5 linked regions of the Homo sapiens genome follow. The protein of the gene in region 5 interacts with the protein of the main gene of each other region in a pairwise test. Each region holds a gene or a part of one and is shown on either strand. Other genes may lie near its edges. The genes, in order: REPS1, MYOM2, MYL1, ARHGDIB and ANKRD1.

What was found.
Region 1: the proteins of ANKRD1 (region 5) and REPS1 interact in a two-hybrid assay, tested with the Homo sapiens proteins (one large-scale study listed by BioGRID and IntAct).
Region 2: the proteins of ANKRD1 (region 5) and MYOM2 interact in a two-hybrid assay, tested with the Homo sapiens proteins (one large-scale study listed by BioGRID and IntAct).
Region 3: the proteins of ANKRD1 (region 5) and MYL1 interact in a two-hybrid assay, tested with the Homo sapiens proteins (one large-scale study listed by BioGRID and IntAct).
Region 4: the proteins of ANKRD1 (region 5) and ARHGDIB interact in a two-hybrid assay, tested with the Homo sapiens proteins (one large-scale study listed by BioGRID and IntAct).

What each region holds. Positions count from the first base shown.
Region 1 is NC_000006.12:138,980,401-138,986,451, forward strand, and holds part of REPS1 (ralBP1-associated Eps domain-containing protein 1), read right to left. Parts: intron 1-6,051. UniProt on the Homo sapiens protein: May coordinate the cellular actions of activated EGF receptors and Ral-GTPases.
Region 2 is NC_000008.11:2,089,288-2,095,338, reverse strand, and holds part of MYOM2 (myomesin-2), read right to left. Parts: intron 5,332-6,051; coding exon 5,148-5,331; intron 2,994-5,147; coding exon 2,819-2,993; intron 1,370-2,818; coding exon 1,248-1,369; intron 1-1,247. UniProt on the Homo sapiens protein: Major component of the vertebrate myofibrillar M band. Binds myosin, titin, and light meromyosin. This binding is dose dependent.
Region 3 is NC_000002.12:210,310,860-210,317,416, reverse strand, and holds the start of MYL1 (myosin light chain 1/3, skeletal muscle isoform), read left to right. Parts: upstream 1-2,242; 5' UTR 2,243-2,374; coding exon 2,375-2,506; intron 2,507-6,557. UniProt on the Homo sapiens protein: Non-regulatory myosin light chain required for proper formation and/or maintenance of myofibers, and thus appropriate muscle function.
Region 4 is NC_000012.12:14,943,526-14,949,576, reverse strand, and holds part of ARHGDIB (rho GDP-dissociation inhibitor 2), read left to right. Parts: intron 1-680; exon of another isoform or gene 681-777; intron 778-1,627; coding exon 1,628-1,704; intron 1,705-4,737; coding exon 4,738-4,801; intron 4,802-6,051. UniProt on the Homo sapiens protein: Regulates the GDP/GTP exchange reaction of the Rho proteins by inhibiting the dissociation of GDP from them, and the subsequent binding of GTP to them. Regulates reorganization of the actin cytoskeleton mediated by Rho family members.
Region 5 is NC_000010.11:90,910,039-90,915,835, forward strand, and holds the end of ANKRD1 (ankyrin repeat domain-containing protein 1), read right to left. Parts: coding exon 5,744-5,797; intron 5,604-5,743; coding exon 5,505-5,603; intron 2,939-5,504; coding exon 2,828-2,938; 3' UTR 2,058-2,827; downstream 1-2,057. UniProt on the Homo sapiens protein: May play an important role in endothelial cell activation. May act as a nuclear transcription factor that negatively regulates the expression of cardiac genes. Induction seems to be correlated with apoptotic cell death in hepatoma cells.

The sequences.
Region 1 (6,051 bases), on a different chromosome or scaffold from region 5:
ATCACTGAGTACAAGGGCCTGCCTTATGCAGTCCCTGCCATTCTCCCCTCTTGTCCACAGTTTCAGTTCCTTAAACACACTGTGCTCTTCACAGCCTCAGGCCCTTCCCAGTTCTCTCTATATGAAACACCTTATTCTCCCTCCCCTGACCCCCCATCCAGGCATCCTCTAAGGGGCCTTCCCTTACACCTAAGTAGGTCCCCACTACCTCCTCTGATTCTACCACCCAATGATTCTCTATTATTGTACACAGTTCTTTTTTCCTTTTTTTTTTGTGGGTGGGGCGGGGGGGGGGGGGAACGGAGACTTGCTCTGTCACCCAGGCTGGAGTGCAATGACACTACTATGTTTACTATGTCTCATTGCAGCCTCAACTTCCCAGGCTCAAGTGATCCTCCTGCCTCTGCCTCTCAAGTAGCTGGGACTACAGGTGCAGGCCACCACGCCTGGCCAGTTCTTTTTCTTTTCGACATTGGCACAAGTCAGAGAAGATGTCTTGATCCTTCACCACTGCATGTATACCCCCAATACAAAGAACAGCCACAAAGAAGTCTTTGTTGAAAGTATTTAAAACTGATTTAAGACAGAAGTGTTTAGCATTTCACAGGTCAGCCTGCTCTTCCTTAAAACTGAATTAATGTAGAAGTCCATAAGATGAGCTTGACTCAATTAGGGGAAGGCTGGAAATCACAAATTAAGTGCAAAATTCTGTGGAACTATGTTTTCTAAGCAGATGTCCAGTGCGTGCAGCAGAATCTCAACGGAATCAACAGCCCAAAAGAGACAGACTAATAAATTCTGTCTTCATTATTTAATGAGACAGACCCCAAATTCAACACCTGGCTAATTCTTGAAACAAAATGCAGAAGAGATGTAGTATTCTTAATTTTAAAAAGCCTAAGTCTTAGAATTTATCAAATCTCAATGAAATCTGGTATACAGTTTAACTTCCATTAGACAAATTTCTTACACAGAGGGAAAAGATGAGTGAAGATGCATCTATAATAGGAAAGGCTACAGAAAATAAAACCTATATAAGGGAAAACATCAGAAATGACAAGTCTTATCACCCATTTCAAATTCTCACGACCTTGAAGAACTAAGCACCCATGGATTTATGACCCTTTCATCAGTTTCCTCTTGTATATATCTCCTCTTTGTATTCCTCAAAGAATGTCAAATAATCCTGTTCCAGTGTCAAGATAGTGGAGCAACTAACCACAAGACTTTGTGCTACTTTTAAAGGGGTGTGGCTGGAATAGATTAGCCGCTCCTACACAAAGATACTCTCATTTGAGTCAGAAATCATGAAAACCCAATCCCATAGCTATATCAGACATTCTGTGATTTGTTCAGGGTTACAAAGTTAGCTGATGCCAGAACTGGAACTTGCCTCCCACAGTTAGTGCTCTTTATACCAGCTTCTCATGCTCTTGTGTCGCTCCATCAAATGTTTGGCACGAATTCCCAATATACTAAAACTCTAACTCTGGGCTATTGATTAAAACAAACAAACAAACAAACAAAATGACTGAAACTAGCACAAGAAACTCAAGAAGACAGAAATTTTAAAAGTAAATAAATAGGACACTACAGAAACACATTGACTGTGACTTCTTTCACAAACAGTATCTTTTTCAACTGTGTATAGGTAAGTGATTATGGCAAGATTATTTCTGTAGTTTATTACAATTATTTTAGTGATTCAGAACTAAAAACCACTACTCCAGAATAACAAACCTGAGACTTATTAAGTTTATAACTTTCAACACAGAAATGAGCTCTGCTTTCCTATTTTTAAACTTATCACTAATGCCAGATCTTGTAATTGATTTAAACAAGTTTCAAGACAAAAACAAAATGGTTTGTTTCACTGTTATTGCTTTTCCCCATTAAATTTATGTGTTATGCAAATATTCTAACAAGATATTGCTCTACACAAATGATCTAAAGATTTTCAGCTTCATTAACAGGGTACATTGCTTACAAACCTCAATGAAAGAACAGTTAGTACTAGAACCCTTTATCAATCTATTATGCATTCAAAGTCTGTATGAAGTTTTAAGACATTTCCCAAAACAGAAGCTTTTGGTAAAAGCTAAGAAAACATTCTGATTAGTGTGGTAAATAGTATATCTTTCCTAATCTTTAAAAAACAAAATAAACTACTTTGGGAAAAGCTGACTTTTAAGCCACAACACTGAATATTTTCTTGCTCGGCAGACAGCAAAATTCCTCATGATTAAATCCTATGAGCCAGATTTTTCTCCCCCTCATCTTGCTATTATGTGGCATGGAGCATAATTTTACAAAGCATGCACTCCTTCACTTTGTCTATTGACATTCTGTCTTCAAAAACAAACTCTTAAACTCAGAATAGATTTTCCTCTGCTATTCAAAAGCAACTGTAATGAACACACCTTAAAACATCTGACAGTGGTAATAAAGAAAAATTGTATTTGTGTGTGCCCTGAACACCAACTACAAGAATCTCCCTCTTTCTCTGAAGTGGCTGTGTTTCAAGACATCATCATACATTAAACTACTTACTACGCAAAGGAGTAAGTTGATACGTAACACAAAATCAGATATTCTAAAATCCCTACTGTTCATAAGAACTATGGGGAAGTCAAAATCAGACCAACTGAATTTTATTCCTCACCCTGCTCCCAAACCACATGACCAGAGAAGGTAAGAGCTGGGACGTGAATAATAGTAAGGGAGAGATACGAATATTCACAAATAAATTATTTAACTTATCTGCTATCAAGTTCTTAGTGAACAAGAATAAGCCTGTAATCCCAGCACTCTGGGAGGCTGAAGTGGGCAGATCACAAGGTCAGGAGTTCAAGACCAGCCTGGCCAATATGGTGAAACCCCGACTCTACTAAAAATACAAAAATTAGCCGAGTGTGGTGGTGGCGCATGCCTGTAGTCCCAGCTACCCAGGAGGCTGAGGCAGAAGAATCGCTTGAGCCTGGGAGGTGGAGGTTGCAGTGAGCCGAGATTGCACCACTGCACTCCAGCCTGGGCAACAGAGCGAGAGACTGTCTCAAAAAATAAAAATAAAAATAAAAATAAACAAGAATAACACCCACTTCACAAGGTTGTTGCAAGAATCAAATGAGTTCTTCCATGAAAATGATTTGCCTGGTTAAAGGAACATAATAGGCACTCGATAAATGCCAGCTCCTTCCTCGTTTGGTTCTGGACTCGGTGTTATTTGTTCTCTACACTCATGCCCCCAGATGACTCAGTCTCCTCCTAACTTTTACTAACAAACACCGAAAACTACTGTACCAACCAAGGTCCTGATATGTATGTGCATGCCCAGTCTATGTGACACTGTCTCCCGTCCCTAAACACTTAGGTGAGCAAAACAGAGGAAGAAATCCCGAACCTCTGAACCTGAACTGCTGTAAGAACCAGCAGTTGGGGTGGACAAATCTCCACCCACTTCCCACTGTCTCCAAGAGATCTGAATTGCCATCTAAGAATGTCTGAAACCAAACTCATCATTGTCTCTTTTAAAAAGTAAGCCCTCTTCCTGCCCCTTTTCTAACTGTGAGTGGTGTCCAAAGAATAATCCTTGCCCCACTGTATTCTCACCAAAACACTGCCAAATAACCCAGGCCTATCACGTTTACCTTCATAATCTCTACCATCTCTCTCTCTCTCTTTTTTTTTTTTTTTTTTTGAGACAGCGTCTTGCTCTGTCATCTAGGCTGGAGTGCAGTGGCGCGATCTTGGCTCACTGCAACCTCCTCCTCCTCCCAGGTTCTAAGTGATTCTCCTGCCTCAGCCTCTGGAGTAGCTGGGATTACAGGCATGCGCCACCACATGCGGCTAATTTTGTATTTTTAGTACAGAAAGGGTTTCACCATGTTGGCCAGGTTGGTCTCCAACTCCTGACCTCAGGTGATCCACCTGCCTCAGCCTCCCAAAGTGCTGGGATTACAGGCATGAGCCACTGTGCCCGGCCCATATCTGATTTTTTGTCCCACTCCCACCACTATAGTCCAGGTTAGGGTTTCTCAGTCTCAGCACTATTGACATCTTGGGCACATAATGCTTGTGGAGGCTGTCCTGTGCACTGCAGGATGTTTAGCAACATTTCTGGCCTCTACCCACTAGATGCCAGTAGAACTGCTCTCTCCCCTCTAGTTATGACAATCAAAATGTCTCTAGACACTGCCAAATGCCTCTTCCCCATTGTCACCTTCATTCCCATGTTTGAGTACCACTGGCCCAGTTTCTCACTTCGTATCTGCCATACAAAATCAGCCCCCAAGTTAAGTCTACAGTTTTATTCCTCTAATTCCTGTGGCCCTGACAAACGACTCCTAAAGCACTGCTTTATGAGTCATTTCTCTTAAATCTACCACTCCCTGTTACCTACACAATTAGTTCAAAGCTCTCCATCCAACCTTGATAATCTGGCCTCAATTAAACATTATTCCACAAAGCACCTCATATAGTGGCTACCCAGCAGTCCTTCAATAACATATCCAGTCTCTCCCTTTCTATTCTACTGCTGTCACCCTGGTTGGATGTCCATGACCTAGCACCCAATCCAGACCACTGAAAGAGTGTCATTCCTTACCCTTTCTGCCACTCAAAGTCAAAAACTTTTCAATGGGTCTCCATTGCTTGCTGAAATATCGTTATCTGCTGCCCTTCTTCAGAGTCTTTCCCAATATGGCCTCTTTCTAATTTTATATTCTGTTATCCCGAAAACACTAGTCCTTGAAAAGGCTCCTACACTTTCCACTTCTGATCACTTTTCTCTGCCTGGAAGCCCTCATAATTCCATTCCCCTCACTCCACCCTAATTTAAAGTCCATCTGAATTAAGTCAAAAAGCCTTTCTTGGTCATACCTCCTTAGCATTTCATAACACTTGGCACCTCTCCTATGGCATACATTATACCTTATGTTATACATGAGCACTCCTATAATTGACAAGATCCTCAAGAGCTTCTTACTCCTCTTCTGATGCCTGCAATGCCTAGCCCAGTGTTAAGTAGAGAACTAAGCATTAGATATGAGCTGCCCCAAATGTTTCCCACTTAGAAAGCAATGGAGGACTGTGTTTTCAGACAATCCCAAACTCCCTTAAGGGAATTAAGCACATATTCTCCTTTTGTCTCATATTTCTATGTCTTAGACCAATTTTTAAGTAAATTGCCTTCAAGATATCTAGACTGCTATTTAGTATACATAACTGTAAGAGTTCTGCTCCAGGGAGTTCCAACTTGTAACTGAACCCTGAATATTTAAGCTCTCTCTTTATGCCAAAAGACAATGGAAATTTATTTTTTGAATGTTAATAAAATTGAGCAAAACATAAAAATAACTTGCACTGAATTAAACATGTTTGAAGTAAAGATTCATTAATGCTAATGTGTCTGTCCTAAAAATTACATTTCAAGTTCTAAAGTCTTTGTGTACCCATTAAAAAGATTGAAAGTTTTATTTCAACTCTTTCTCACCTCAAAGACAAACTAAAATAGAACAGAGAAGGCTTTTCCTTAATTTTATTTAGATCCTAACTTGAAGGTATACTTTGTTATTTCTTCAAAAGGAGCAAAAAGAGTATGATTAATGAGCATGTTCTGACCAGATCTCTAAGTCCTACTCCAAAGCTGTAACAGGAGAGTACCATAGACCACACTACCAGCACCCTTCGTTAGCAGACCACAGGCTTTGTTTTGTATCTCCCTGAGCTAAGAATGGCTTTACATTTTTGTGTTTTGTAAACACAAGAAGAAGAATATGCAACAGAGAGCATATGTGGCCAGCAAAGCCCAAAATATTTACTATTTGTCCCTTTTCAACAGGATGAATTTGGGACTCCTCGTTGCCCTTCACTGGCACGTAAGACATCCCACCTTTAAAAAAGCAATGTAAAACACAAGACCATTTAAAAAGATCGAACTCGTTCAACTTAGTCATAGTTAATGCAGACTTAACTTCTAAAACAGAGACCTGTGTGTGGACATTTTTATTCTTCACAGAATTTTTGTTGGAAGAAACTTGCCTTCATTCTGTG
Region 2 (6,051 bases), on a different chromosome or scaffold from region 5:
GCCTGAGCAACAGAGCGAGACTCTACGTCGAAAAAAAAAAAAAAAGAAAGTGGTTTTCCTTTAGTAGGAATGACATTAAAAAGAAAATGGGAATGTTTGAAAGTCCCTCCTGGAAAAAATTGAGAGGAGATTAATCTTAAAACAAAAGAGTCAGCGCTATTGTACCTAGCTAGATGTTATCAGATTTGACATTCCTTGGAAATCCAACAGCAATATCATTAGAAGATAAATTTTAATTTCTGAAAATGTTGCAAATTTAGTCAAAGATGAAAAATCATCAACGAGCCACATAGTTCCCTCTGAAGTGGGAAGATAACCCTGTGAATCCAAGGGTGTCCCATGTGGCATTTGTGTTTCAAAATGTTTCTGAGTATGCGCACTGACTTCCTGAGGTGCATTTCATGAGAAAACAGAAAGCCACGAGGCTGCAGCACAGCTTGATACAGCAACTGTTCTAGGGACGGTCCCTGAGATTTAGGATCCCAATTGTCTCGTTTGATCAAAATAATAAAAACTGTTAAACACCACTATTTACCAACAAAGTCTCAAAGTTACATAAATATGACATTCTCTGAAGTGACTAAAGTTCCTAGAACTGAGAACAGCTAAAAAGGTCATGGATGTTGCTGTATTTTAGCACATATTTTGAAAAGAGAAATGTATCCCCTACAGCATATATATATTTTTGAGACGGAGTCTTGCTCTGTCCCCCCAGGCTGGAGTACAGTGGCACGATCTTGGCTCACTGCAAACTCCGCCTCCCAGATTAGGTGACTCTCCTGCCTCAGCCTATCGAGTAGCTGGGACTACAGGCGCCCGCCACCATGCCAGGCTGATTTTTGTATTTTCAGTAGAGACGGGGTTTCACCTTGTTGGCCAGGATGGTCTCAATCTCTTGACCTCATGATCCAGCCACCTTGGCCTCCAAAAGTGCTGCGATTACAGGCATGAGCCATTGCGCCAGCCTACAGCATATATTTTAACATGAGTACAGGTATTTGGCAACAACAATGTTTTCTATTTTTAATTTGCGTTTTATTAGTGTATTATCATTTCTCCCTCTCACACTGTCATTTCCAAGACAAGCAGCCAACCGAGAGGCTTCAAAGAAACTCAAGTTCTCTGTTCAGGAATTTAGTCCCCTTTTCCCCTTCAATGACATTCCAAATGGCATCACAAATGTTTATTCATGCAGAAATGACAGTGTATGGGAGCAATCGGCACACAACAGCCTGTGAGTGACTTACTGAGTGCGGCCTGCACTTTTATGACGTCTGATTCCTGGGAATTTTCACTCATCCCCACAGCATTGACCGCCTTGACTCGGAAGATGTACTGCTCTCCCGTGGTTAAGCCGTGCACCACGAACCTGAGAAACACAGGGATCAGGGTCAGAACTGCCAGGCTCCACTTTTTCTCTCCTGCAGCAGAAGCAAAAATCACCCTGAACGCGCCATAAAAAATTTTTATGGATAACATACATCCTTCATTTTCAATTCTAGTTAATTAGCTCAACATGTAGAGTCCGACAGTAAGGTCACAGCACCTAATTATAGCAGGAGCTGACTACACGTGGTGCCAAAGCCACTTGTTCTGTGAGTTCACCTTTGCTTTTGTACTTTCTGGGCCTCCTCTGGATCAGAGGTCTATTATCCAACAGTATGCCATTTCTTATCTAAAAGAACCCGTGTATGTAAAACTTAATTAGCAGTAATTACACTGCAGTGGTTACAGGCCAAGACTTGGAAGTCAGATGGACTAGGCTCGAATACTGGGGCTTTGAAACCTCACAGATTTTATGGTCTTAATCAACCTCCTTAACCCCTGTAAGACTTTGTTTTTCTATTTGTAAGATGGGGATGATAATTCCCACCCCACAGCACTATTGCAGGCACTACATGGAAAACTCTAGGTGGACAACTTAGCACAGATGCTTTGTGTATGATAGATATTCAGTCCGTGTAAGCAATTATTATTTATCATATATAGTCAATAAATATTCACTAACCATTTCCCTGTACTGGAATCATGTTTTAAGTTTCTTATTCTGATCGATCTTTCTGCATTTGCTGTGGGCTGTGAAGAACATCTAATTGTTATTCTTTTCAATGACATCTCTTCTTGTTAGCCACCACTTTTTACAGTGTATTTTTTTCAGATTTTAAAAGGAGAAATGGCTGAGCCATAATTGATCATCTATCCACAAGGGTGGTTCTGACAGCTGCTGACATTTTCCTAAGACGCGTATCGCAGAGAAGCCTAATAACCTCAGACATCCCTGCACACTCAGCAGGCAGCAGGAGCAAGTCTCTCCAAAGGCAGGGTCACTGGCTTTCCCCTGCAAAGCAACCAGCATCCCCCGAGGCTGCCCCCACCACAAGCGAAGAGTCGGCGCCCGGTGGGGTCTCCATCAGGTGCTGGGGAATAGAACTACCAGGCACATGAACAAAGCAACTTTCAAGTTCAAAAAAATCAATACGAAAAAAATAAAACGACTTTCACATCGTAGTCACTATTTTTAACTCTGCTATTCAAAGAAAAGGCCTAAGTGCTAATTATGTCAGGGGAAAAAAAAACAGGTTCTGGAACTCTCCTTTCATCCATAAATAAATCGTTTCGGTCGACATGAGCAAGTGCAGTAACTAGCTCATCCAAGTGGTCAAACTTTAAAATTATACAGCCCTTGTGTGTGGCTAAGACAGACTCATTTACGCAGAAGCCTTGCGGCCATGGTACTCCCTGTGCCAGGGCCACAGGGACCTCAACGGTCTTGCTACTCCTGCAAGGCTGACTCCAGGGCTGGGGAGGGAGGCCGCACCTGTTGTATCCGATGGGCTTGTGGTTGCAGGGCTCCCAGAGGTTGGTTCCGGCCACACAGCAGTCCACGTAGTAGCCCAGCAGGTCCTCCTCATGCTTAGGTCGGTCCCACTGCACCACCACCGACGTCTTGGTGTTTCGGGAAGCAAGAACCCGACCCGGAGCAGAAGGGACAACTTTTCGTAGGAGACAAAAGGAGTGGTGAAATGGCATCAGAGCTTTGGAAGCTACAGCAGAGATCTTCCGGCCCTTTTCACAGGGAACTGGACAGCCAGACTGGGGGCTTTGGAAGAAATTCAGACAAGGGGTCCAGGAGTAGGAGAGGAGCCCCGGGCCGACCACCCGAGGGCCATTGGGAGGTGCTGGTCTCTCTGATCTCTTCCCAAGCTCCACACAACTCCTAGAGACACAGGATGACATCCATCCTGAATCCTCCTGTCTCCCATCAGAGCTGTTTAAAAGACTCTCTGTTGGCAGCAGGGATGAGGCTACCCGGGTAACAACTATTTTTTGGACTGGAAATTAACCAATTTTAAGAAAGTAAGACTCAATTTTATCAGATCTGTTGAAATCTCCGAGGGGCACTCAAAATTCGATCATGACCTAACCATCAGATCCTGTCATGTGGTGCCAGGCCCCACTAGTGGACTGCGGACTGAGGTCAGGTAAGGCCTTGGGGCCACCTGTGTCCTCCGTGCCGGCCACCTGGGCCACACACCCCACAGTGTGTCTCAGTGATGGACACTGTCATTTTTCATATGTGTCATAAAGCACAAGAAGGCAGGGCCTTGCTCAAAGACAGCTGGTCTTGTCAAGCCTGTGGTTCTGGGTATGAGTTCTAAGAGCTTCAGTTAAAACCAGAGCCAGATAGAAACTTGAGGATGCCCTGGAGGCAGCCGGCCTCGTGACCTTGTTCATTTCCGTATCTGGCTTTCTCAGGAAACACGACAGAGAGAGGGTGGAGGGCACCCAGGCACTCAGAACCGCGTTCCTGACACCAATGTGCCTCCCGTGAAGGCTTCTGGGGATTTCCAGGGTGCCTCCGCTTACATGCTAGTTAACTGCCATCCACGAAGGAGTTATGACTCCAGGGATTGCAATTCAAAATTTCTGTAATTTGTATTTGAAACCTTCCAAGAGGGACCTTCAAGCCAGATGGGCAAGAAACTCTAGTGCCTGGCTGGGCACCCTGGCTCACACCTGGAATCCCAACATTTTGAGAGGCCAAGGTGGGAGGATCCCTTGAGTTCAGGAGTTCGAGACTGGCCTGGGCAATATGGTGAAACTCTATCTCTACAAAACAAAAATTTTTTTAAAAAAGCATTAATTAAAAAAAGACAACAACAAAAAAGTCTAGTGCACTTAAAATTTGAATTACTTTAAAAGTGACCATTGCAGAGAAAAGGGAACACTTAAACACTGTTGGTGGGAATGTAAATTAGTTCAACTATTGTGGAAAGTAGTGTCATGATTCCTCAAAGAGCCAAAAAAAAAAAAAAAAAAAAGAACTATCATTCAACCTAGCAATCCCAGTACTGCATATATACCCAGAGGAATATAAATCATTCTACCATAAAGACATATGGATGCGAATGTTCATTGCAGCACTATTCACACAATAGCCAAGACATGGAATCAACCCAAATGCCTGTCAATGACATTGGATAGAGAAAATGCAGTACATATATACCATGGAATACTATGCAGCCATAAAAAAGAACAAGACCACGTCCTTTGCAGGAATATGAGTGAAGCTGGAGGCCATTATCCTTAGCAAACTAATGCAGGAACAGAAAACCAAATACCAAATGTTCTCACTCATAAGTGGGAGCTAAATGATGAGAACACATGGACACATAGATGGAAATACACACGGGGGACTATCAGAGGGTCTAGGGTGGGAGGAGGGAGAGGAGCAGGCAAAGTCACTAATGGCTACTAGGCTTGGTACCTGGGTGACGAAATAATCTTTACAACAAACCCCCATGACACAAGTTTACCTATGTAAGAAGCCTACACATGGACCCCTGAACCTAAAATAAAAGTTTTTTTAAAAGTTTAAATAAAACAATAAAAGTGACCGTTTCCTAAACATATTTTTCAACTCACTTACTGGTTTCATGAAAAGAAGATGGAGCTTTGGAGAAATGTCAAGAACCAAACAAAACATGGCAGAGAGCTCTTAATCTCTCGTAAAGTGAAGTTTTAAGTCCACTTGAACTTCAACTCGTTTATAACATTAATGTCTTTATTCACACAATTTAAGGCTATTTGGTGTCACCCCACTCTTAGTCCATCCTGACTTGGGGCCACCCAGTGTGACAGCTCACCGGTCACATCCTGGGCCTGAATGGGGGACGTTATCTCCGAAGGTTCGCTCAGGCCATGCCGGTTTGCTGACAGCACTCGGAACACATAAGACTTCCCTTCCATGAGGTCAAACACGGCATATCTCGGGGATCTCACAGCCGTCTGGGCGTTGACTCTCTGCCAGCTGCCGCTCCCCACCACGGACTACAAAGAGAAACAGAAACGAGACTGGCAGTGAAAACCGCGAGGTCCCCAGAGGCGTGTGGAGGAGGAAGAAATGCTCTGTTCTCGCTATCCCAGGACCACCAGGCGCGCCCGCTGCGTCTCGCACACAAAGGATGGTCATGCATCTTTTTTGAGTTTTATGAAACATGATGCCAATTTGGAGAAGGAAGTCACAAATACCCAAAGTTGATCATGTTTACTAATAAATTTTTTTCCATTAAAGTAAATAATTAAACCATAGAAAACATAAGGGAATCAATACATAGGTAGTAGTTTTAGCAAAATAGAACTAACCTGCAAATAATGAAAGATAATTTAGAAGTATATTCATAAAATTCTGTCATAACTCAGTGGTTCGCATTTCAATTTAAAGTTATTACCATATTGCAGCTACTTGCAGTAGTGATTAAATGACAGCAATCTAAATGGCTGTCAATACGGTCAGACACATGATGATATGTTCATAGATTAAAAACCTCATGGCCATTTAAATTATTGTATAAAGATCTTTAGTCTAATAAGAGGAATTATGTTATTTTGTGAAATCTAATACAGAATGCAAATTGTATGATACAACAAGAGCATTAAAATCTATGGAGAAAAAGACTATAAATATATGTACCACACGTTAATGTGGCTATTTTATATGGTGGAATTATTGCTCATTTTAATTGCATTCCATGTAACTTCTCTGTCTTT
Region 3 (6,557 bases), on a different chromosome or scaffold from region 5:
AGAATGGTACTTTGCCTTTGTGATTTCTACTTTGAGAAAAAAATTCTATACCAACATATTTTCCTCTGTGCATTCATATATCAGTAATATATATAGTTAATAACACAAAGGGATTTAGGTATATAGTAGAATCAGACAATTTCCCTTCATGTTATGAAATAAAGTGTTCCTATTTCAATTCGGGGTATTTGAGTTTTTAAAACCAAGATCATTGGTGACATTAGTAATGTAAAACATATGTTGAGTGAGTGGATAAAACATATGGATTAATATATTTTATATTGTTTTAATTTATTTTCCAAATGCAAGGAAGACAAAAATATTTTTGCCCAGAACACATAAATCTCCTTTATCTGTTTAACCTTGTCACAGATTTTAAGGGATTTGTGCACATGAAACAAAGTATTGATAAAAACTATGAGTTAAAGCAAGATATATCTATCTCTCAGTAATTGCAGAAAATCCCAATCTATCTTTGAATGATCCAAAGGAAAACTGGTGAACAAATTTCTGCTATTTATGAAGGTATTTCTGTTATAAACATAGCATTATTTTAAAAATCTATCCTGATTATTTAAATATGAGACAGTATTCTAGGTAAAATATGTTCAGATTCTTCTGACTGTCCTGTATGTAAAAAATGAGTATCAGCAGCTAAATTTAGATAATGATTGAGTCCTTGATATGGGGAAACAAAGGAGGGAGCTATCAAAATGTTTTTCCTGTAATATACATGGATAATATAATTCAGTAGATCGTGCCACCATGTGAAAAAGGAGACTGATTAACTGTGGGTCAATTGTAACTTAGGTGAATTATTTCTGATCTGAGAGTCTTAATCTTGCTTAGTTGTAATATATGGACAGAAATAGTGACCTTCTCCAAGTTGGTGAATGCTTTTATATCAGACCCAAGAAAGTGGCTAATTAATCTGTATCTTTAAACACAACTATATTTAACAATTAGAATATGTGTGTATTTACACATACATTTGTACACATGTATGGATGTATATATACACACATACAGTAAATGTATATATGTATATATACACATACAGTAAACATATGTGTGTTTGTATATATATCCTTTATATATATAAAATGTATAAATGTGCTCTTTTAAAACCCAAACTATTTTTTTAAACTGGTTAATAACTACTCATTAATTAAATATCTCACAAGTTAAAACAACAGAGATGAGAGTGGGACTGAGAAATAACTGATTACTAATTGTAACCCCCTCTCTGGCAGAATTTACCACATACAAAGTTATAAAGTGCCCATTGGTGGTCTTAAATTTCTCGATATGAGTCTAGCCTTGCAAACTGAGGAAACCAAGGACAGAAAAGGAAAAACTTTCAAGTTACCACAACTTGCACAGTGTTGATAATTAAAGTTCTTCTCTCTCTTTATGTCTCTAAAAATGTATTTTGTCTCTCTAGTATGGACAAAAGATTTATGTGATAAATAATTAGACTTTACACCATTTAGAAAATAAATATCTATAAGTATCTACTTTTCTTGGAAGCTACTTTACTATTAGAAAAGTTGTTTTGCAAGAAGGTAAATCTTGCTGTCATTTCCATCCATTTGATATGCTTCATTAAATTATACAAAGAAAATTAAATTATAGGAAGTCATGTTGAAGTTTTTTGGCATAGAATTCACTACAATTAAAGGAGAGAAAGAGTGCCAGAGTCTGTGCTCCCTAGAAGGGAAGCCACTTTAAGACATGATGGGCTTTCCTTATACGTCTGCTTTTTTATTTTTAACCACCACCACCTCTTTGCTGACCAACATTTCCTTGCAAATTATGGCAAGGGGGGAGGAGCATGAGCAAAGGAGCTGTGTGAAAGTTGGTGATACTCCCTGCCAAAATTCCAAGTTGAAATGGAATCCTTCAGTAAAGTCTCTTAGGCAAGGTGGGAAAAAAAGATTTACAACTTCAGCAGAACTGTAATTCTACCAAGAAAAAGTACAGTCAATCTACCTCACTGTCACCAAAGGATCTGAAGCTGGCTTTGTCATATATCTTTCTCCTTTATATATGGAGGTGGGGGGGGGAGAAAAAAAGGAAAGAGAGTTAAAAAAAATTGATGAAGCCCTGACCCTTTAGATTCCATTTATAGTCTGAGCCGGAATGCCATCCCCCTTGACTAGAGAACTGTCCAATCCAGCCGCATGTGTCAAGATTCTATTAGGCACTAAGTGAAATATATATGCATGCCCTTATGCCGTTTAACACTCTGGGTCCATCTTCAAGACACTGGGCTGTGGATCAACCCAACCACCACTCCTCTTCCAAGAATCATTTTGACAGGTTCTTTTGGAGGAACTCCTTCTCTTTTTAACCCACCCTTTTAAAAAAAAAAATGGCACCAAAGAAAGACGTGAAGAAACCTGTGGCTGCGGCTGCGGCTGCCCCAGCCCCGGCACCGGCACCTGCACCTGCCCCTGCCCCAGCCAAACCCAAAGAAGAAAAAATTGACCTCTCTGCCATTAAGGTAACTAAATGGATGAACTGTTTGGTCACTGAAACATCTTTCAATAGTAAGGATCTCTAGGAACTTGCAAAGGCGTGTATTTTTCATTGAGAGGAATAGCATTATTTAGTGAGCTGGTAGATTATGAAGAAGAGAATCCTGCTTTAAAAAATGAATGCCAGCATATAATTTCAAAAATTATTAGAGTATGGTATCATATGTGAAGCCTGTGCTTGCTCTATTTTTTATTCTCAAGTTTCCATTTTCTCCTAAATTGCACTTATACTGTTTAGGAGAAAAGTATATATGCTTAACAGTGTTGCATTTAAGAATATTTAAACCAGTGTTTGGGTTTAAATAAAATCTCTCTGGAAACCAGATCCCTTACTTACAAATTACATCAAAAGGAACGTTTTAGCCCCTACTTATTTCCAGAAGTTTAAAAACAGCTGATGGCCCGGTTGTCCTTTATGTATTTGACAGTTACTTTCCTTCTTCTGAAAAAGAAGATTTTTTGCAATTCAAGTTAATTCTCCCTTCAGCTTTGCCTAATAAAATTTGATACAACACTAAATGAGATCTCAGTGCAGAAAATTATGCACTCAAGTGTTTCAGTGACTGTAACTGTCATCTTGTTTATTTATACACAGTATTTAATTCAGAATTTGTGAGTTTCTTCTAAATGAAACTAACAAAAATAATTATAAAATTTGTTATTTACATGGCTTTTAGCTTATGTCTTAGAGTATTTGCCTACTGATCTTGGACTAAGAAAAATGTGATTAATTATTGTGTTAACACTTTGCTGTGATCAAAGTTCTCAATTGCCAAAAGATTATCTGCTTTTGGAAAAATAGGTACGTCTGTTAACTTCCAGTGATGTGACTCATTAAATGTGCACCTTCTCTTCATTCACTGAGTTCTGATTGGCTCATATTACAACTTGAAAATTTTTATCTAAGGAAACCTGCCTTATATGGAAAATCAATGAGCAATAGTACCCATGAGGTGAACTTTTCACTTAAGCCAAAAGTTGTATATGTAATAAATCTCAATTTTGCCAATTTACCATTGTTTACTTGTAACTATGATGCTGACCCATAAACAAACATTTCATTGACCATTTAATATAACTATAGAATTTTTTAAGTCCCAAAAATATTTAGTTAGATCACCCTTAGACATTATGTAATGAAGTTAAATATATTTATAATTTATATAACATTCCAATTAAACATGAAATTTTGTTTAAAGTATAAGTAAATTATCACGAATATTTAATCTTTAGTTTGTAGGTATTTGAAGTATTTGAAAAAAATTGGTCATGGAATATAATATTAAGAACTATTCTTAATGGATATCCATTTAGGAGGACAAAAAAATGCATGTCAGGTCTTCTGATAAATGTTTTTCTAACTTGAGGACTGCATGCATACAGTTCTTTAAGAGGAAACCAAATTTTTCATCTCCAGCAATCCTAGTTAATGTATCCTTTATAGATGCATACTGTCTACATTACACAATAAGTGAGATCATAGCCATGATAGTAATTCTGATTGTCCCTCATCTTTAACTCTGCACTCTGTAGTAACATAAGAGATATGAATCAGTGTCAAAGCTAGTCCTTTATTTATTGTGATTTATAAGACAATGTTACCTGTTTGTATCTGGTATTACAAACTTCTGTAAAGAAAAGAAAATGTACCTCTTTACCTAAGAAGCAAATGAAGTATCTAACTAATGAAAACAGGCATTAATTTTCTTCCCTGAGGAACTGTGTAAGAATGAGTACATAAATAAAAATTGTTTGGCAGGTGAGAGATCTCCAAGAAAAGACAAAACATCTCTTTTCTAATCCAGAAATTAAGCCAATTACTTGTTCATAGTCAGCAGAGAAGCAACACTTTTCAGAATCTTGAAAATTTGTTTATTATTCTGTCAATATGTTAAATTGACATATTGACATTCGTCTGTCAATATGTTAAATTGAGTTGTACAAGCTTAATATTGTGTAATATTGTGAGGATACAATATAAGCTTATACAACTAAGCAAAAGAAGGAAATACCCCTGGAGTGTCTCTATGAGAATTGGGTATGCTCCATCTTTATTATTTCATTGCAGAACAAGAGATGTGATGGATTCTAGTAAGGGACACAAATCAAAAAGAAGTTAAATGAATCTGGAAGAAACAGGAAAAAAAATAACCTTTATCTTCCATCCAGAAGGCCCATTTGCAACAGAGAAAAAAAAGAGAAACAAATGGAAACTAACACACTTTTGTAAAGAAATGTAAATATCTTCAATGCTTTGCATTCATTAATATGAAATAAATCAGTGCATATTTAGATGTATTCTAGCATGGCCAAAGAAAGTGATACAACTCAAGAATTTTATAAACTTTAATTTTATCCCAGGAGGTAACAGGCCTAATTAAAACATACATTAAAACATTTTATATTATGATGTTTTTAATCACTTAATAATGTTTCTAGATATATTACCTCATAAAAGCTATACAATTTTTTCAAGCAGAGAAAATGAACTTTAAAGAAATTAATAGAGCTGTTATATGTATTCATTAACTTTCTGAAAATTCAATAAAGAACAAAACTTAATTGGATTATAAACTTTCTTTCATAAATCAAAAAAGATTAGAAACTTAGCTGTCCTCTAGACTTTGAGTAATGCTGTAGTTTAATCATAACTGCCTTTGTGTAGTACTATAGTCATAGCCATGGTAAAATTTAATTTCTCCATAGTATTCCCAGCTAATATCTATGTTTCATATTGTAATATACTACATTTAATAGCCATATATTTGATTCCCCCATAAATCTTGAATAATCTTGAATATAATTAATTAGTTTTATCAACTGCTTAAATGTGCTTTCCAATCTGATTTCCTGGTTTGTTAGTTATTAGTTTACAACATTTCTTCAATTGTTCTGACACAAATTTTATGATACTCTCTGAAGGAATGCTTACTTGATGTCCAATCCTAATGGATTTTCTATGAGTACCCTTTTCAACAACAAAATACTGTTGATATTTGAACACTAAAGTTATTGTCCTTGGTGGTTCTAAGCACTCTTTGCCTTCAGAGAGCTAATACTCCCAGTAATCCAGAACAAAAGAACACAGCCTAAGAGAATCACAGTTACAGGAATTAAAACACAGCATAAGTATGGTTGTAGGTTCAAAAACAAGAATATGCATTGCTCAAAACTGCAACCAAGCAAAATAATGAAAGTAATAACATAACCATGTACCTAGATTGTAGATCTTCAATGTGTAAGTGAATTTTCTGCATGATGCATGCATTATATGTCAGTATTGCTGTGAGGTGATAGGATTGTGAATCATGTCTCTCACTGTGCTGTTTGAGTTTTAATTCTCGTATTCACCACTTAATCAGGTCAGCCGTGACTAGATATTGTGAGCGATATTATAAAACGTGGTAAAGGTACAGAATGCATTGACAGAAACTATCAAATAACGAATTTTGCATCAACAATTGACCACATGCCTGGGAAGATTTAAACTTTCAATTTAATATGTAAGGTAGAAATCTAATGTTCCCAAATACATTTACTTACTGATGGGTATTCAGTGGAGGCAGATAGTTTTATACGCATTGTGGCACCCAATTTGTTTTGGCCCAGGTATAGGATTACTTTTGTTCATCTGTAAGTTCTTTTTTCTCATTTCCAACAAAGCTAATATAAATCCAGTTTCCTTTAGAAGAATTTCTGAGAAAAATCAAATGAAGTCATGCTCCACGAAAGGCTCTGAAATCTATAAAGCTTTTTGTAACAATAACCAATATTCATTGTGAATTTGCTCTTTGCCATGTTATCTTATTTAATCCTCACAATATTACACTGAAGTTATTGTATCCACAATTTAGAAGTAAAGAAACTGAGCTTAAAAGAGGGTAAGTGCTATACATATGATCAAATAAGTAGTTAAGTGATGGACCTAGGGTTTAACTTAGCAAGCAAAATCCAGAGTCAACTGTGTTAACCATATCCAAAACTACCACCCTTATTTATAAAAAGTAAGTTGCTGTT
Region 4 (6,051 bases), on a different chromosome or scaffold from region 5:
GATATATTTACAGATTTTTGTCTCCACATGATAGTAAGAGAATTGTTATTTATGCAATAAAGACTGCTGATGGAAATATTAAGAAACAAATTGTGTGCTTCTGAAGTTATAAGGTTTATACAGTCTAAACATCAAAGTATTGATCTTCTATCCACTACAAAACTTACTGGAAGGTGAGAAGCAATCCGGAATTATACTAGAAATTCCACTGCTATAGATTGAATTGTTTTAGCTTGAAACTCTGATTCTTGTTAAATAAACAACGTCTCCTACTAAAGGCGTACAAATTAAGATGTTATTTTCTTTCACCTTATTGTAACTAAGGGTCAAGCCTTTCCCTGAGACTTAGGGCTTGAGGAGGAGAGAGACTGGGAAGGGGGTTATTGTGGAGGAAATGGGCATCAGAGGGGATATGAGAGGAGAAGCACGGAGCCAGGAGATTGGGGCCTTCAAAGGCAAGTTTTTAGTGGAAAAAAAAAATAGTTACCAAATGAAAAAATTGGACTCTTGTGAGACAGACAAAGCACAAGTCTAGAACAGTTGGCTTAGTTAGCAGCAGAGTAGTTCCCCTCTCACAGGACACAGCCAGTCTTTACCTTATATGGGCTTTTTTGTCAGAGGGAGGAAATCAGAGGCTGAGAAGGCACACTTCCTGTTCAACTGAAATCATTAGAGCAGGCACACACACACATTCAGCTACCCCGACATGCTGACATCTCTCCAGGAGAGAAACTCACGCTCTCTCACCAGAACTCAGAGTCTTCCTAATATTACCAGGTACAGCTGCCAGTTTGCAAGATAAGGTCTGAATTAGCGCTAAAGAAATCTGTTCTCTTCAGCAGGACCTGGTAGTATTGCAAGGAAAACTTGGTCTCTGTCCCCTTTCCCAGCAGAGGAAAACCAAATTGGGTTTTCTGTCACTAACAAGCTGCTATGCATGAAGAAAAGCATAGAGAGTGATTACCTCCTTAATCAGGGTACAGGAATTTGGGACAGATCCTGGTTTTATGGAACCTGAAGCTTTTATAACTTCAGTGATATTCCTTAAGAAAAATAGTATGAAATTGCAAATGAAAATACAAGAGTAAACACAAAGGTGAACATTTTCTTAAAGTGATAAAATGAATAAAAACAAGTAGAATTTTAAAAGCTAGAAAATGCCACAAACATCACCAAATCTATAAAAACAAATAGCTGACACTCCTAAATACTATTTTTCTTATATGTTTTATTTGAGGGGTAAGGGGCATATTCTTTAATAACCTCTTCATTTGACCAGTAATATAATTCTCAATGAGAGAATAAATGGACCAAAAAAAGATTTATCTTCACAACTCATTATTTGTAATGTCTTGTGTATTTTTAGCATTGTCATCAAACTTGGGGGCAGGGAAACTCTCATGTTTTTCATAACAGAGCTGTAAGATTTCAGGCATTAAGTGTGTGTGTGTGTGTGTGTGTGTGTGTGTGTGTGTGCAAGGACTAAACTCAAATACTCTGTGAATTGAGGGCCCTGTGAACCATGTTGCCCTCGTGGGCCCAACAAATTTTTCCGGGACTTAAAAGTCATTTATTAACTTGTGTATCTGCTTTTGAGGATAAACTCTCTCTAAATCTTCTTCTACAGGAGATCTGGAAGCCCTCAAAAAGGAAACCATTGTGTTAAAGGAAGGTTCTGAATATAGAGTCAAAATTCACTTCAAAGTAAGTATCCTGCCTTGTGTGTTTTTGTAAAGTTTAAATCTTTTCTTTAATCAGTGACTACATTTCTTGCATGATCATGTTGAGGTACTTTTTGTTTGTTTCTCCCCTAGTACCCCCAAGCTGGGTCTGGAATGTCCTCTTCCCAGCCCTGAGGGCTACCTGTTGAGACCCACGTTTGCCTCCTGTCTTTTCCTAGCCAGGACTTCTTAAACTCTTCATTATCTCTTAAGCCAATGGGATCCCTCTGTGAACTCCAAACACATCCTCGAGGCACACACTGCTTTGTGTTGTACCACCTGTGTCATTTCTTCTTCATAGAATATAAGCACCTCAATCTAGGGTGAAATTGTACATCTCTCCTTTCCAATATTTCACACAAAACTTTGTAAATAGCATATAGTTCATGAATATATATTGAAAAGTGGACAAACAAGTGAATCAACCAATAGGAAAAGAAAATGGGACAGGGCCTCAGCTCTAATTGCTCAAGGATTATATAAATCCAGGAAGTGTGATCTTTGCTAAAGAACTGGAAATTACAATTATAGTTGTGGAACAGGTAACCAGGAAAGAGGAAACTAAATAAGAAATAAACTGACATCTAATATATCCCAATGAGCCATATATCCCAATGAGCAGCCAAAATCACAAGAAAAATAACTTTGACTTTGAAAACAAATAAGTTAGAAATGCAGTGTTTGCACTTCGTGGTTTATGTTTGCTTTGGTGGCCTCTCATTCCCACTTAGCCTCAGTCTCCAGGGCCTGGGCTCCACCAAGGAAGACTCCATCTGCTCTCTCTATTTGCACACTGGGAACTTTTTTCCCCAAGGTACAGGATATGATTCAGGGTTTATGGATGACCTCCCTACCCCATACAAATATAACTGAAAATAATTTCATCCTGGAAATATTTGTTGATGCCTACTCTATAATGGACACTGAGCTAGGGTTCACTTACTTGTTTCCTGTCATATTATTTATTATTGGAGCACCTGAAGGTTTGGTAAGGCATTATATCAAAATATGCCTAGAATGGGTTGCACATCAGTTTCATTTTTAATCATTGATGCTATTGCATTAATTTGTCTATTTGGTAAACCAGGTTTCCTCAAATGAAATGTGACAGGTAAATTTTGACGTGACTAAGATGCAAAGGAAAGCTCTGGAACAGGGGCTTCTCCTCTGGATGGGGAGGTGGAGGAGGAATGTGGTATGTGGGTCTGTGTGGACAGGTTTACACATTAGGATGATGCAGGAGGAGGCCACAGAAAGGGGCTTTTGAGTACTCTCTAATTCAGAGGTTTGATGGCTCTCTGGGTAACCTACGTAAAGTTGAACCATCCTGTGGCTTGTCCCAGCATGGTGCTACAATTAGAAGAAATGCCAGATCAAAGTCAAAAATCCTTGAAAAACAACTTAAATCTTCACTGAAGTCTCTTGAAAAATGTCCAAGAAAGTTTGCATTTATAACACAAGTAACACATGTTAAGTCCTCTTTCACAATCTCTGTTAGTTGCACTCAATGTTCTTTTTCTCCTCCCAAACTTCTTAGCACTTTCTAAAAACCTGACCTACGATTGTTATTTTAGGTTCTTCCCAACTTTTTTTCTGCCTCCCAAGGAAATGTGGTATCTCTGACTTCCACAGCTCTCACTTTGATTCATAACACCAAGGCTTCTTCCCCCTGGAGTGGGAGACACAATAGGGATGGGGATGTGGGCAGAAGAAGAGGATTCTATGAATATTCATAGTTTTATTTCACCCACCCCAAATGTATTTATATTAAATGGACCCACTGAAGAGCGCTGGTGAGATGGTAGACTCTTTGTCTTGAAGTCCTTATTGCTACACCAATATAATTCTTCTTCTTAGGTCTTTCTCCCACTAGGTGAAAGGGATAAGCTTCGGGACATCTAGAAAGGTGCATTTATTTTCCCTATTCCTATGAGCTACATTTGAGACTCACAGTATTAGAAAGCCTGGGCTTTATCACAGTCTCTTTGATGATGCTAATTTTTTTTCTGACAGCTTTTCATAGGTTTATACTACAGATTTACCCTGTGACAGTCAAGAATCTAAGCTGGCAGAGTTCACTGCTCTGCCACCTCCCTGCCAACAAAACAAAAGATAGCACTGGTTGATTGGTTGAACTATTGTGTCCAACACAAAAGGACAGCCATAATTATTGTTGAAGAAAAATTATTTGAAGATGCTTTAATTCTTCACATTGGTGAACAGATAACCAAGCTCTTCGGCTAATGATGCAATGTCCACTTTAATTTGTTTGTATAGACATAACGACTGTGTAAAATTAACAGACAACCCAGGTCAGTCCCAGGTGAAATGAATCATGGAAAAACAAAGTTCTTGGGCTGTCCACATTTTCATTCTGCGTTACTGAATTTTCTTTGAAAGGCTTGGGAAAATAGCAAGATCTCAGACAACGTCTGAAAATGACAGACATCCAACATACTTGCCAGATACAAGTGAATTTCACCCATTATTTCAGTTATATTGCAGTCACAGCCATCTTCTAGACATGAATTTTCACTTTCCTCCTTGTTGTTTGTTTTTTATATGGTAAGTGGATCATCTCTGAGGTTGTGGTTTTTAGATATTTACATAATGTGCTCTATTGGTATCTTCATAACTTTTCCTAAGACAAGGATGGTCTCTTGGTCAGCAGTATTGGAGAGGGAAAGCTCAAGGCCATTCTTGGGACCATTGAGAAAGGAGAAATACAATGAAGAATATTGGGCCAATGTTTTAATGAACCACTCCTCTCTCCCAAAACGGTAAAAATCAAAATGTTCGATAATTAAACCAGTTTGGCAATGTTGCATTTTATGATTTCCCCTCTCTAATCTTTGCCTCACAGCCATGCTAAATAATTATAGAAACACCAATTCTGAACTAAATCTTTAGTTTTTTCATTGTCAGAGACGATTCAGCTAGGCAGGATCAGCATGAAAGATGAGAAAAAATGAAAGACCCTCTTAATCTGAACATCTTGGTTCCTTCCCACCTGCAGGTGAACAGGGATATTGTGTCAGGCCTGAAATACGTTCAGCACACCTACAGGACTGGGGTGAAAGGTAAGGGAACCCACATTTCCACACTGTCCCAAACTGCTTCTCATTGATACTTTAACTTCTGGTTATTAGCAACTTTTAGCTATAGACTCAGATGAGAATACAATAAAAGCTGTGGATGCCGGCTCTAGGAAAAGGCACAAATACACCTCTGATATAGACATTGACAAGGCCAATGCTCAGGGGACCTCGTTTAGACTGCATCAGCTGCTAACGTTCAGCAGTCAGCTTTTTGGATTCAATATTATCACTCGTAAAGGAGAAGAGTAACCAAGATAAGTTTAAAGGAAATAAAGTATATAAAAATACTCTACAAAGTAAACAACCAAAAAAGGCAGTTCACAGGTACAAAACCCAAGTGTCAGAGAAAACCAAGAAAGAAAAAACTTGCCCAGTGCCATGTGTATCTGGGGTGGGAGTAGGTGGGGGTGGCATTGGAGGGAAGGGGGAGGCAATGCTCAATTTCCTAACAAAGAAATAGAAAAAAAAATATTTTCTAGGATTGAAAAAGCCTGTCTAATTAAAATAACACAACAACATTACTTAATCTGCAATTCTTCTTGTCATGCCTTGGGACCCTGCCTTCAATTTTCTTTCATTAATATAGGCAGGGAGAAATGAGAGGCGGGAAGGTGATGGAGGCACTTTACAGTTCCTTTCTACCTAAGGGTCTGTCCCCTCCAGAGGCAAGAAACAACAAAGCATGTCTCAGTTTCCACCAAATTAATAAGCAAGATAGGGGAGAAATTGTCTGATAAATCTGGATGACATAGAGGACCAGTCAATTTCTCAAATCCCAGAGAAGACCATTGACCTGAAAGATATTGATTGGCCTTTCCGATACCTAGTCTCATGAAAAAAAAGTTTAATTTCCTATTTTCCTTTGGGCATAAAGCCCGTATCACCTCACTTAGACAAAAGGACAGTGACATGTCTGCAACTGTTTTTTCAAACTTATTAGCAACACTTAGCCAACTATATGCCACCTATCTGCCTATGTATACTTTTCAATGCCCAACTATTCTTAATATATATTCCAGTTAACCACCTATAAATAAACTTGATTGGCTATTTTCACCATTTGTCCTAGTTCTTCACTTTTTTTTTTACCAACTTACTGCTGTTGTTGTTCCATCCAGTTATTCTATCCATGAATTCTCATCACCATCTGTTACTTTATCTCCCCCAACTGATATGTTCATAGAATGACAGTTTGTAGATAGAAGATCCTTAAAGTCCATCATATACACAAA
Region 5 (5,797 bases):
AACTAAAAGTGGAGCCTGAACATGTGACTGAATTGTTGCAATCTTGTCATAAAACTTGAACAGCTGAGAAGTTGCTTCCTATGGATGAGCAAAGGAAGTGGTTTCTTGAGATGGAATCTACTCCTAGTGAAGATGCTGTAAACATTGTTGAAATGACAAAAAAAGGATTTTGAATATTACATCAACTTAGTTAATAAAGCAGTAACAGGGTTTGCGAGGATGTACTCCAATTTTGAAAGATGTTCTATTGATAGTAACATGCTATCAAATAGCATCAGATGCTACAGATAAATCTTTTATGAAAGAGTTAATTGATGTGGTAAGCTTATTGTTGTCTTCTTTCAATAAATTGACACAGCCATCCCAATCTTCATCAACTACCACCCTCATCAGTCAGCAGCCATCCACATGGAGGGAAGACCCTCCGCCATTAAAACGATTATGACTCACTGAAGGCTCAGATGATCATTAGCATTTTTTTTAGCAATAAAGTATTTTTAAGTTAAGGTAGGTACAGTGTTTTTTAGACATCGTGCTATAGCACAATTATTAAACCACAGGATAATGTAAACATAACTTTTGTATGCACTAGAAAACCAAAAAAAATTGTGACTCACTTTATTGTGATATTAGTTTTATTATGGTGGTCTGGAGGTCAAAAATCATGGACCTGTGTGTTCTCTCCTGGGAAGTCTTTGACATTGCCAGTCCCTGTCCACAAGAATTGTTAAATCTCCAGTTAATTTGCATTTTTCTAATGATCAGTGATATTGAGCTTTCTTTTCCAGATGTTTGTTGGCCACATGAATATCTTCTTTTGAGAAGTGTCTGTTCGTGTGCTTTGCCCACTTTTTTGATGGGGTTGTTTTTTCTTGTAAATTTAAGTTCCTTGTAGATTCTGGATGTTAGAGCTTTGTCAGATGGATGGAGTCTGAATGGCAGTTACTTAAAAAGTCAAGAAATAACAGATGCTGGCAAGGTTGCAGAAAAATAGGAACACTTTTACACTGTTGGTGGGAATGTAAATTAGTTCATCCATTGTGGAAAATGGTGTGGTGATTCCTCAAAGATCTAGAACCAGAAATACCATTTGACCTAGCAATCCCATTATTGGGTATGTACCCAAAGGAATATAAATCATTCTACTACAAAGATACATGCATGCATATGTTCATTGCAGCACTATTCACAATTGCAAAGACATGGAACCAACCCAAATGCCCATCAATAATAGACTGGATAAAGAAAATATGGTAGATATACACCATGGAATACAACGCAGCCATAAAAAGAATGAGATCATGTCCTTGGCAGGGGCATGGATGCAGCTAGAGGCCATTATTCTCAGCAAATTAACACAGGAGCGGAAAACCAAACACCGCATGTTCTCACTTATAGGTGGGAGCTGAACAATGAGAACACATGGACACAGGGAGGGGAACAAAATACACTGGGACCTGTATAGGGGGTGGGGTGGGAGGAAGGAGAGCATTACGAAAAATAGCTAATGCATGCTGGGCTTAATACCTAAGTGATGGGTTGATAGGTGCAGCAAACCACCATGGCACACGTTTATGTAACACCGCTGCACATCCTGCACATGTACCCCAGAACTTAAAATTTAAATTTAAAAAAGTCACTAGTTAAGCCTTAATGGGAACTTCGTAAGAAATGCGGGTTTACCATGCAGAAATCATTCTGACCACCAGGGGTCTCTTTCTACACACCACTGGGACTGAAAGCTCGCTAGAATTCCTTTGTGTCTTTATGGCTCTCGGCCTAGCTGCTCAGTGTGGTGGTGGCATTTCGTGGCCTGTCACCTGGGAGCTTGTCAGAAAAGCAGAATCTCAGGCCCCACCTGAGACCAGCTGAATCAGAAATCTGCATTTTAACCAGATCCCCAGGTGATCTGTATACATATTAAATACTGGGAGTGCTGTTGTACGGGACATTTCTAATCTGCAAAACTTGGAAAACAATGGAAAAAAAAAACCCTCCTATATAGCTTTTTTTTTCACATAGGACATTTCCACCACACTTATAGAAGGACTTAGAGGTTTAGAGTTTGATTGCCTTTATTATGAATATAAAATGTACATACAATACAATATACATTTATACATTTACAGTTTGCATTTCCTTTCATCTTTTTTGAGCAAATTCAATTCTGCATGTCCCAGTTTGCCGCTCCTTCCACTGATTTGCACTTACACTCATGACGTTCTCTTCACTTGGGTACTCTGTGTACTCGGTAAAAAAAAAAAAAAAAAAAAAAAAAAAAAATCCAGCCTGGGGGTAAAATAGCTGGCTTCACTGTCCTTTTCACAGAATCACTTTCCTTCCATTGTTTCCTTTCCTGTCCCTACATGCCTTCCCTTGCTTCATTCAAACTTCTGCATTAAAAATTCAGGAGAAAAGAGGGCTGTGATAATCAGCCCTCTCTTAAAAACTCTTACATGAGCGAATGACACATAAGTAGGCACTTGAACTTTGCTCTTTCACCTGGTTTAAGAACTACCTATGGGTGGGAAGGCTCTGAAAGTGTTATATACAAATGAAGCTCTGCTCACCAGATGGATGATCATGAAGGTCTGAATATCAGTAGCGTGGCAGTAAATAAATAAACAGGAATACATAAAAATAAATAAGAGTTTCACTAAAGGAAATTTAAACACCTATAACCCTGTGCTTTCTCAAAACTTCATTAGGTACATCTTCACAACACGTTGATAAATAGAAACTAGATTTTATGGCTAGTGTCTCTTCTCTTGGGCCATGCCTTCAAAATGCCAGTGAACATTTACTGATTAAGAGTCTGTCGTTTGCCTCAGAATGTAGCTATGCGAGAGGTCTTGTAGGAGTTCTCTCTGAGGCTGTCGAATATTGCTTTGGTTCCATTCTGCCAGTGTAGCACCAGATCCATCGGCGTCTTCCCAGCCTAATCAAATGAGATAAGGAAAGTTGACTTTCAGGTGGGTGACATCTGTAAATTCACATTCTCTGTGTGTGTTTCATGAGGTAAGGATTAGGTATATGTTATAACAGTGTTTTATGGTTTCCACCAGGAGTGATCTGCAGTTTATACTCAAACCAGTCCTTCACTGTTTCTCAGAGGGATGCTTTTGCCATTTTAGAGCAAAAATCTTTTTCACGTGGGACCATCCCAGGTATTGGTAAAATCCCTTGTCCCTAGACACTATGTGTCAAGAGCACCTCAAGTCATTTTGAAATTTATAAAATGTCTCCATACATCTTCCAGTATCCTGTGGAATGGACTCCCGGAGGTGGGAGCATGCCTCTTGGACCAAGAATCAGTGCCTATCCATTTGAATGATAGTTCTTTGATTGATAAGAAATGATGGTAAATGAGCTGCATCAATAACTTGGCTTAAGGACTTAGGTACTGCTTGGGTACTATTACTGTTCCTGGGAGCAGATTTTTCATAACTTGTCAGAATTTTCAATGGACTCTCCCAGGAAATGTATTTTTCTTGGAGTTGATGGCAATGACACATGTGAACAAATAATTTTTGAGACGAAATTTTGATTTCCCTTATGCACGTGTCTCAAGATTTAAAAATATTAAAACCATGTCATCTCTCAATTCTCATCTATAGATCTGAGAAGTCCAAAATTTTTCCATCTCTATTCATTGAGAAGTTTCTTTTTAACCCAGCGACTGCAAATTGGCAGCTTTGAGATGCAAACCAGAATAGAGACCTGTTTTGTTTTGACCCAAACAGAACTTAGATTTTTTTTAAGATTAGTATGAATTGGCAACAGTTGGAAACCAAGAGCTGGATTTGTGACTTCTATGAAAAAATCAGAAGAGTTAAAAACATGGTACCCATGGTTCCACAGAGCAACATAGACTGGGTTGGGGAAGGGCCACCTTTAAAAGAGTTATGTGCACAGACCCTGACAGCCACACATTGAAGTCACTTAGGCCATCTGCCCGGCACAGTGAGGTCAGTCTGCAGTCAGATTATGAGATCTGTAGGTATTTAAATTAGTGGCCCTATAACCTTCATTTTGGAACTTCCCCACCTCTGTAGTGTCTTTCTCTAGGAACAATCATCAGTAGACATGAATATACAGTTTTGGATAATGAGAAAATATTGTATGCTGCTCCCAATCTCCTTAAGATGGCATCAATAGGTTATTGATCTTTGGGGGAAACATCAATCCATTGGGTCAATGACATTAATAGTTCCATAAACCTGATGCTAATATCTAACTGATAATTCAGAACCCTAAGCCGTATTTGTATATTTTGGGCTACTCTTCCATAAATTCCTTGCACTTCTCTCCATTGAAATTTATATTGTGATTTTTCTGGCTACTTACACAGTCTCCCTAAACCTGTATGCTATTTGTCTCTGCTGGTAGTGTCTCACTGCCTGAAAAAAAATCTTCACATTTTCTGCAGCTTTCAAGATTTCATTTAACCTGCTCTTTTTCTGATAGTTTAAAAAAATATTAGATAGGATCAATTCCAATATCTAGACTGAGGAAGCCCTACTGTTAACACTTTCCCATCCCAAGCAATCTTCATTTATCACCATTCTTTGATCCTGTCACCAAGCCAGATTTGTTTTAAAAGATAAGATATTCCTCTCAGTCTTTGCAACACAAATAAGGGGAGAAAATTATTTGCATTTATATGATGACTGAGTTTCCCTCCCCCCCCCCCCACTCTTTTTTGTAAAGTGATTCTTCAAAAGCTTCTTTAAAATTATTTCTTCAGAAATTTATACCTGTTCCTCTGGGCAATATTTTTTAAGCTTATATTAGATGGTGTTTGTCTGGAAATTGAGACCATGAGGAAAAGTTGGTTATGTTCCCTGCTTACAGATGAAGTTAAATTAATATGTACTTATACAAGAATTTTCAGGGCCTAAATATAGGAAATTATTTTGAGAGATGTGAAGACAAATCCAAGTGGAGAATGGATAGAAATTATCTGAAAAAAAATACAGGCAAAAGCACAGCTACCCCTGGAAGAAAATGGTGACATTTCACATTGCTGTAAGGAGGAAAGGGACTTTCTGAATTACTCAGATTGGATATTGATTAACCTTAGTTCACTGGCTGCACTGACCCTTGTGGAATTTTAGGACATTTTGGAAATGGTGGATGCCTTTATTTCTAACTTCCTCAGCCCTTGCACAGACAGAAATGGCCAAAGCAGATTGGACTTCTAGGTGTTTGTGGGGATGAGCAAATTTTGACTATCTTTCATTTCCAAGACCAAATTGTAAAAGAATTACTATGCACTGTATCAGGCACTGAGGTCATAGCAGTATCTATGACTTCCCTCATCTCTGGCCATGTGAACTGGGTCCTAGCCAAGATAAACACTGTCCTTGGGGAAATGGGCAGGGGCATTTAGACCATCGAAGACCCCTCAAATACTGCCATTGTGGGAGTCGTTTCACCTATTTAAGAAATGCTCCTGGAAATTGGAAAGCTTGCAAGCGGTGTTTCTTGTTTCCAGTACTTACACAGTTCTTGATGTTGAGATCCGCGCCATACATAATCAGGAGTCGGATCATCTTATAGCGGTTCAGTCTCACCGCATCATGCAACGGGGTATCTCCTTCCTAGAGAAGCAGAGTCAACAGGTTCAAGGTGGGTCTGAGGCCAGGAAGTGGGTCCTGCAAGGGCACCCAGGCTTGGGGGAGTGATTCCAAATACAAAAGCAATGAAGCTTTGGGAAACCCGAGCGTGTCCAGCTACTCACTCTGTCTTTGGCGTTGAGGTCTGCCTCACAGGCGATAAGATGCTCCGCGCACTC